Regions from separate parts of the Homo sapiens genome. Here regions 1 and 3 are each reported to be linked to region 2. The links are microRNA targets in miRTarBase. Many come from high-throughput screens and were not tested one by one. Region 2 holds a microRNA gene; each other region holds the end of a gene's coding sequence.

Region 1 (3,000 bases), not on the chromosome of region 2:
CCTATTATGTGCCAACCATGATTCTAGCAGTGAACAAAACAAAAATCTCTACTTCAGGCAATTTCATCATTTATCTTATGAATTCTGATGTTTCTCCTTGTGGCTGTTGATACTCTAGTCTAAAAGTTAAGTTTTCCTGCATGAAACAAACAAGGAAATACAAAATTAGCCAGAAGCTAAAGGAATTTCATGTCCCTGAACAGGAAATTTAAAATGTTCTTTCACAGAGGACTGGAGTTAATATTGACAGGATGTTTAACGTTTTTATCAATGTCTTCATAGGACCTGTTCACTGTTCAAAAAATACACTTAATGGAGATTTGGCATCAGCAACCATTCCTGAAGAAAGCAGACTTATGGCCAAAAAACAATCTGAATCAGAAGATACTCTTCCATCCTTCTCTTCCTGAAGAAACTGAAGTGTCCAACTTCCTCTAAGTATTGCTATGCAAAAGCTGCTGTAATTAAACTATTGTTATAGGGAGTAGTTTTTTCCCTTAGGACTCTGCACTTTATAGAATGTTGTAAAACAGACAAACAAGAAAACAAACCACATACTTTTGAAGTGTATTTTATCTTTATATAGTTTGTTTGCAAGAGTATTTTCCTAATAACTTCACAGTATGAATGTGCATCTTTTTTTTTTGAACAAATGATGGTGTAACATTTTGACATCCATAAGGACAAATGTAGATATTTTTCTTAAAAACTCTGAGGGGACTGACAGCATGGTCAGGGTGTATTGTAGCTTATAAACATGAAATCTTATAAGGTTTCAGTTTGACAGAAGTGTGATATATGTAACTTGTGCCATGGACCAAATGGTCACTTTACCACAGCTAAAAATGAGTTACGATAGCAGCTTGATGGTGATTGTATTGTATTCCTTTAATCAAAAAGGAAACACAATATTCTAAGTATCTTTAGCCCAAATACCATGACATATTGAGCATCTTTAAATAACCAGACTGTATTGTCCTTCATATGTGAAGTTGACACTACTGATTTGTCAATACCAAATTTTGGGTTAAAGTGTTTAATTTTTATGTATTTATTTTCTTGTTGCCTCAAAAGATGATTGCATTCTAACTTTTGTGACCTACCAAATTTAAGATGTGTATACGTTGTTCTTTACGTTGTTCTAGAAAAGAGATTTTAATGCTGTAGTGACTTTGCTCACTTACACTAGAGAAATAAACAACTTTCAATGGAAGAGAATTTTAGTGCTTTTTTTTTCCTAAAATAGATATTAAGCTGCTGTTGTAAAGTATTGTTTGCAGCTCTTTCCAATATCTAGAGACATTTTTATTTATGAATATTTATACAAAAAGGAATTCTGTCAAGATGACTGCTCTATATCACTTGAGAATGGCATTATTTAATTAAAGAACAAATAGCATTTTTTGGTAGTGCCTGTCCATACCTATTGTCATTGTTTGCCTTGTAATCTGTTTTTTTGAATTCATTTTGGGCTGATAGTTTTGTTTAAGGTTTTGGATAAGGAGCACTTTAAAACAAACTGGTGTGTTGTTTTTAAGTTAATCATATGTTTAATAAATGCGTGGTTTTTGCATTCAAACACATCATATAATACATTGTATTTTTTACATTCATTGATATTCTGTCTAATCTTTATTAGGCACTAATATAATTCTAATGGATTTGAGTTTGTTTGTATATTTAGGCCTGCTGGTGAAGACACAAATGAAGCATAATTTTTGTTGCCTGTGAGCTTAGAATGGTGTGACCTATTTCATTTTATTTCAATTTATCTTGTAAGTTTATGTGGGATATTTTAAAATAATTAATATTTGGTATTTGTTTAAAAAACTGTAATTATAGGCCTTCCATCTTAAGTTTAAGATGGACATAAACAGTCTATACATTAATATGTGTTTGGGTAAACTGTATGCTACTTGAAGTGTTTGTAATTTTAAATAACACACAGGTCATCAGACTACTCTATATTCAGTGGAGTCTTTGCCTGCTCATAAGTTGTACTTCATATGTCTAATTTGAAAAAAAAAGTTTGATAATGTAGTAAGTTATGACGTTGAGCAGGTAATCAGGTTTTTCTTGTTTTTTTTTTTTTTTTAAATTTTGTAGTAAGAACTTGCACAGTATTAAGACCATGAAGGTCAGGGTGCTATTGATTGGGAGTTTTTTCTGGTAGTGAGTTTTTTTGCAGTAATAGGTTTATAAGGAAAACACCGTAACAAGCTTTTGAACTTATAGAAAATAATCACATCCATTTTCTATTGCTTTACCCAAATAGATGGGTTCGTGAAGAGTTTTCTGTGAATATTTTAAAAATACAATGCAATTATTTCTGGTTTGTATCATTTTTTCCCCCTTAAAACAGGTCCTTGAACAGGTTTGCGGTATCCCTAAGTATGTCTTTTGTTATGACTTGGAGCCACTTTTTGTTGTTATTGTTAGGAACCAAACACATCTGTGAAATCATTTTTTTTGTGGGAGTATAAATATATCTTGAATTATATCCAGGTTTTGATCAGTGAATTAGTAGCATGAAGAAACCTATAAAGCTTAAGGGAACCTTGCATTTTGAGGAGTCCTTTATTTTCAAGTGTGCCTGACTTTTTTGAATTTTAAGAAAAAGATGAACCATATAACAATTCTGTAAGAATTTTAGCTTGTCAAGTTGTTCTATACTTTATAGAAAAATTATTGGTTATTATTAGTTATTAGTAGTCCCTTTTTTTTGCTTTGTCTAGGTCATGGGGTTATTGAGAAACATGAAAAGTTATTGAGAAATTTGGAGGTTCTCTTGGCAGCCTATCAGTGATCTTCTAAGCAAAAGCAGTGCTTGTTTTTCATTTCAAGTGCTTGCTCACTATTCTTTGGGAATCGCAGGCCTCCATGACTAAAGGGATTTTGATACAATTCTTTTATAAATGAGCTGAATTTGAATTTTCTTACATCATATGGGATTATTGCATGATCTTCAGTCAGGAAAAATCCAGAAATGGATGCTATTGC
Region 2 (3,151 bases):
GGGGAATAAGGTCATGCTTTTTCATCTTTTTTACATGACCTGATAAGACAATGAAACCAAAACATGCTTTCTTATAGTTATGGTAAAACTAAACCCAATGCTGCCTCTTATTTCACATTTGCATTTATAAATATATGTTGAAATATTTTTACTACAACTGAATGTATGATTGTTGATTATTTACTATAGTTTTTAATAATTATGAGGACAATTTAAGAATAAATAATGGTTTAAAATTATGTAGAACACATGATCTATATAAAGGCTATAAAACGTATTTATTTCAAAATATGCAAAATCACTAAGCAATTAGTATGTAGTATTATTTTACACAATAAAGATATAATTAGGAAATGCTAAGTGATTATAGATGTGAAATGATTAATGATTGTACAACTTATCATTTTGTTGCAGTTGAGTTTACAATCTTAAAAAAACGTGTATGTGGCTGGCTTTATGTTTACTCGTTTGTGTGTTTGCTTGTTGTCTGGTGGTTTAAAACATTTTTTAGTAATATTTTATTTTTGCCCAACCTGTTGACCAGATGAGAGTTGTATGTAGCCATGCATTTTAAGTGTATCTTTTTTGAACAATAAGTTTAAATATATTTTATTTAGGAAAGAAGATATCCTATGTCATGTAATACATCTGGAGTATAAATGTTAGTGTGGAGTATTAGTAATCATGCCATTATCGTGCCATTTAGTTTAGTTTTATATTAACTCATCCAAATATTGTAAATTTTAGCACCATTCCGACTATAGACACAGATGTATATATTTAAGGCTGATAATAACTTCCTGTATTCTCTAGCTAGTGAACAAGATCTTACTGTTTTATGAGAAAGTTATAATGTTACCAATTCCTTGAAACCAGTAACTAAACTAGTTTTATAAAAATTAAAATAAGCACGGTCTAACTCATACACAATTAACTTAATAGTTAATTTGGTTTTAATTATAGGCTCGTAATACTACATTCATGCCTCACAATTATATAATTCATACATGCATGTATGGATTCTTTTTTCTTTTAAAACTCAATTAGAATAGTTTAATTCCAAAATATTTACTATTGAAACAAAAGCAGTTCGTGAAAAATTTTTCAATAAACTACTTTTTAAATTCTCATGCATATAAATTTGTATTTAGTTTTGAATATTTATGAAGGCCTTTAATGGAGAATATGCATCCTTAGAACTCAGCATTTAAAACATTTATACTAAAGGATCAATATTATTTTTGACTCTTAATTGCATCAGATATTTACAACAAATTCTATATTAATAGGGGGCCCATGCAAGATGTTGCCCATTGGCATAAACCCGTAGATCCGATCTTGTGGTGAAGTGGACCGCACAAGCTCGCTTCTATGGGTCTGTGTCAGTGTGGTAATCTGACAAAATGCTATACACAGTGCCGTTCAACAATAGTTCAGTAAAATCCTGTTAAACTCCAGTTGATTATATACTTTTGAAGTCATTATATTTTCCTTTGTTTTTAATGTTTATTTTAATCATTGTCTGTCTTACAAGGCAGGCTTCAATTCTCAACAACTTGGAAGCGTTTATATCACACCCATTCAAGTTCGATTCCATGTACAGTAAATTGCATAAGAAAGTTGAACCTTTATAGCAGGGTTTGGACCAGGATCTGAATAGATTCTGTTCAGAAACTTCAGTGCATACTGTAGTGCTTAGTGTACCTCTTCAACTTCAGTAAGAAAATTAAAGACTACCATTGGATTTATATGTTTTTATTGAGCCTATTTCTCCTGAAAAAATGAGGCTGAATGCAATTGACTTTTACTATTAATTGCGACTAGAACTATGGCAGGTTAGATGGTCAGAAGACATTTTACGTGACCTATGCTGGAAACCCAAGTGTTTAGGTTAGTCCTATGAGAAACAGTTAGCAGCAAAGTTTACTGGTAAAATGTTAGAATATTATATCTATATCCTTGCCAAGCCCTTAGGTGTATGGCTGCCATATTTGGAGGAGCTGACTGAAGATATGATAAGGAGTTTGAAGCAACATTGGAAGCTGTGTGCATCCGGGTTGAGGTAGTAGGTTGTATGGTTTAGAGTTACACCCTGGGAGTTAACTGTACAACCTTCTAGCTTTCCTTGGAGCACACTTGAGCCGTCGAGGAATTCTTCATCACTTTAACCTGATTGAGCCAATTTGTGTGCAAGAAGGTAATGTGTCATGAGTATCTTGGATCATTGATTTGGGCCTTTATTACATTAAAATGATCATTTCAGCCCTATTAGATTATTCCATTTGTATCTGCTTATGAACAATGTCAAAATGGTATTTCTAATGGGTTGTCACTCCATGTTCAAACATTTTAAGAAAATTGTAGGTAGTGACTTAAATTGCATTAATATTAAAGCTTTTTATCATCTATAGATTAACAAAATTCAGACCTTAATTTTCAAATGGATCATTGGTCTATTTATATTGGCTGCTTAGACACTATAATAAAAAATGTCTGCTAGAGTTAATAGCTCCCATAGCACATTATTTGCGTTTTCCTTATGACACATCACTTTCTACCTTATGTTATGGCTATTTATGTGCTTGCTGATTTTTTCCGCACTAGACTGTAAGCCCCTTGAGGGCAAAGTCCATGTTTTATTTTTCACTGTATCCCCTCCAATGCCTTACTCATAATGAGCACTAACTATTTATTGGATTAGTGAATGGAGTGTAAGACCTCACTCTGTGATGAGTTTCTATTGAATATTTGAATGAGTTATGGCAGTGGTCAAACATCTGAGTTTTATTTATTGCTCCTAAAACTGTTTAAATTTAATTCCTGGACTGCTCCGCATCAGTAATACATGTGTCGATTTTTGACTGTGTTGAATGTGTTCATTCATTCTAAACAGATAAGTTAAAATTTAGAAGTACTTTTTATCTAGAATAAAAATAATAGAGTAAATTCATTTTTACTAATTAGTTCATGACAGTTTATGATCCTACACTTAGATAATTCATATTTCTGTTGAATTTAAATACCTTTCTTTCCAGATGAATCGTTTTTCTTTTAGCATCAATTTCAACTAAATATTCTATTTTAAGTCTCATTTAACAATATGATTTTTAAAAATTAGATTTGTGTCTTTTGTGTATTTCCCTCGTCTCCT
Region 3 (3,000 bases), not on the chromosome of region 2:
CCAGTGGGACAGAACATTGAAACCTTTAAAAACTCGAATTGTCCCTGATTCCTCCAAGCCTGCCTCCATGTCACATTATTTAAAAGCCTGGGGGGCACCTGTCCTACTTGCCTCTCTTCTACTTATCTGTAAATCTTCACTTTTCTTGAAATTGGTGAGAGATAAACTACAGGACAGAATGTCCCCTTACCTAGTAAGTCTTTGGCGAGGATGAACCTGATTGTTACAAGGGTTACACAAAGTCATGCTAATTCTATCTCCAAGTATCTTGTGCATCCCTCCTCTGCTCTCCATCATAACTGCTATTAGCCAAATTCAGGCCCAGTCATCTCCTATCTGAATTATTGTATTATCTTCTTCTTTGTTTTCAGTACCCTCTTTCTTGCCACCCTTTCCAATGCATCTTCTACCCTGCTACCTCAGTGATTATTCTAAAATAAATATATATGATATGGTTTAGCTGTGTCCCCACCCAAATCTCATCTTGAATTGTAGCTCCCATAATTCCCACATGCCGTGGGAGGTAGGTAATTGAATCATGGGGGCAGGTCTTCTCCCATACTGTTCTCATGGTAGTGAATAAGTCTCACTATATCTGATGGTTTTATAAATGACAGTTCCCCTGCACAAGCTCTCTCGTGTCTACCACCATGTAAGACGTGTCTTTGCTCCTTCTTCACCTTCCACCATGATTGTGAGGCCTCCCCAGCCATGTGGAACTGTGAGTCTGTTAAACCTCCCTTCCTTTATAAATTACCCAGTCTTGGGTATGTCTTTATTAGCAGCAATAGAACAGACTAATACAATATGGTTTATTACTCTAAAGTAAATATATGGTTTATAAATATATAGGAACCTCTGATTCCCAGGAAGGTCTCAGTAGGAACAAAATGGCATTCAAATTAAGTTGAGAAAATTTTTTCCATCACCCAAACTGGAACACAGTGATGCAAACATAGATCACTGCAGCCTCGAACTCCTGGGCTCAAGCTATCCTCCCACCTCAGCCTTCTGAGTAGCTGGGACCATGACTGGCTAATGTTTTTAAAGGTTTTCATAGGGACAGTGTGTTACTTTTTCTTTCTTTTTTTTTCTTTCTTTTAAAAAAAATACGGCCAGGGTCTCGCTATGTTGCCCAGGCTGGTTTCAAGCTCCTGAGCTCAAACAATCATTCTGCCTCAGCCTTCCAAAGTGCTGGGATTACAGGCATGAGTTATCATGTCCAGCCTCACTATTTTTTTTAGATCTCAGATCTTGAACTCTTGGGTTCAAACAAACCTCCCTCCTCCACCTCCCAAGTTGCTGGGATTACAGACATGTGCCACCATGCCTGCCTGGAAATTTTAATATAGAGATTATTTTAAAAGATATGGGCAGAGTGTAGGAAGATCATAGAGATAATGAAACACTCCCAGACTTGTAACCTTTACTATCCATAGACCTAATGAGGCAAGAGAATAAAGCAATTACTAAAGAGAAAAAGCAAGCACTGCGTAGAGGGCCACCTAACAAGAGCAATGACCTTCAGCTGAGTGACAAAGGCAGGTGCACGATGACTACAAAAGTAGAGATCTGGGGGAATAAATTATCTAATCTTACTCTCTTCCCACTCTCTGATCCCTTGCTAGTGCTCCCCAAGGGCCAAACCAAATGAAAGTCAGAAGGCAAGGTTGCCAACAGATTTTATCCACAGAGGTCAGGCTCCTAGGGCACAGAGCAGAGCAAAGATGATGGAGAGGATATATGGTGAGGCACACAAAAGGGATCCAGTTTGATCATGTCACCCTCCCATATAAAATCCTTCATTCTCTATCTTGATTAGAGATAATAGTCCTTGGCTGGGCACAGTGGCTTATGCCTGTAATCCCAACACTTTGGGAAGTTGAGGCGGGCAGATCACTTGAAGTCAGGAGTTCAAGACCAGCCTGGCCAACATGGTGAAACCTCATCTCTACTAAAAATACAAAAATCAGCTGGGCGTGGTGGTGCGTGACTGTAATCTCAGCTATTTAGGAGGCTGAGGCAGGAGAATCACTTGAACCCAGGAGACAGAGGTTGCAGTGAGGCAAGATCACACCACTGCACTCCAGCCTGGGTGACAGAAAGAGACTCTCTCAAAAAAAAAAAAAAAAGAAGACATAATAGTCCCATATTCCTTAGCATAACATAGAAGGCCCTTCATGGTCTGAGTCCCTTTGCCTGGGTCAGCAGGATGCCTGTTATTTCAAACCCTCCCATCCAGCACTACCAAACTATGAACTTTCATAACTCCTCCCTTTGGCATCAGCTCTTGCCTCTGCCAGGCACACAAATCTATACCGTGCCTGACTGATGAGATCCTATTTATCTTTCAAGAGAGCTCAGTGCTCTCATTCTGTGCAGCCTTCCCTAAATCCCCAAAGCAGAAATGGTCACCCCTGTGTAGCAGCTGCACCTTGTGTATGCTCTGGTGCTGCTCTTTTCTTACTATAGTATCATTTTCTTTTTGTCTGTCACCTAACAAATGGTGAGTTCCTAAAAGGAATCATATCATGTTCATCGGACACACTGCCTGATATGAAGCATTGCTAAAGAAGTATTTGATGAATCGACAGTGGCCTTGCCAGCTGGCACTCTTTGTTTTCTCTCTTCTACCTACATTCTTGTCTTCTGCCAACATGATAAATTACCTCAGCCTTGCAAACAAACAAGAACAGTCCGCCAACAGCTAATGTTATAAGTAAAGGACAATCCAAGTGGCAATTAGAAGAAATAGAACTATACAGTCCAGTACTTGCACAGGAGCGAAGTACACTGGTTAAGAGCACTAACTTGAGAATGAGAACTCAACTTGTTAGCTATGAAGTCTTGGCCATGTGACTTAGCCTCTCTAAGCCTTAGTGTCCTCATCCGGAAAACAGTGGTCATAATAGGGCCTACCTTACTGTGAACATTAATGAGAAAATGCACGGTGTTTGGTCCAAAGTAAGTTAACTACTAATAGCTGCAGAATCGGGGACA

The links. The annotated mature microRNA hsa-let-7c-5p reads UGAGGUAGUAGGUUGUAUGGUU and lies in region 2 at 2,059-2,080, shown strand. An mRNA with a match to its seed (bases 2 to 7 or 8) in the 3' UTR can be bound and repressed. Matches are read on the target gene's strand: a 7mer-m8 pairs with bases 2 to 8, a 7mer-A1 pairs with bases 2 to 7 and ends in A, and an 8mer does both.
Region 1: miRTarBase lists PLEKHA3 as a target of hsa-let-7c-5p. The part of its 3' UTR that is shown has no 7-base or 8-base seed match.
Region 3: the mRNA of FMO4 is a reported target of hsa-let-7c-5p. Seed matches in the 3' UTR shown: 8mer at 415-422.

The regions. Positions count from the first base shown.
Region 1 is chr2:178,503,478-178,506,477 of GRCh38, forward strand. PLEKHA3 (pleckstrin homology domain containing A3) reads left to right here. Exons shown (of 8, transcript NM_019091.4): 8 at 283-3,000. The coding sequence ends at 410. Among named protein-coding and RNA genes, the nearest start is that of TTN-AS1, 18 kb to the right of the region's middle.
Region 2 is chr21:16,537,780-16,540,930 of GRCh38, forward strand. It overlaps MIRLET7C (microRNA let-7c), which reads left to right and starts at 2,049; the gene lies at 2,049-2,132. The region is part of intron 6 of MIR99AHG (mir-99a-let-7c cluster host gene); the gene reads left to right. It overlaps MIR99A (microRNA 99a), which reads left to right and starts at 1,310; the gene lies at 1,310-1,390.
Region 3 is chr1:171,341,626-171,344,625 of GRCh38, forward strand. FMO4 (flavin containing dimethylaniline monoxygenase 4) reads left to right here. Exons shown (of 10, transcript NM_002022.3): 10 at 1-459. The coding sequence ends at 214. Among named protein-coding and RNA genes, the nearest start is that of FMO4, 29 kb to the left of the region's middle.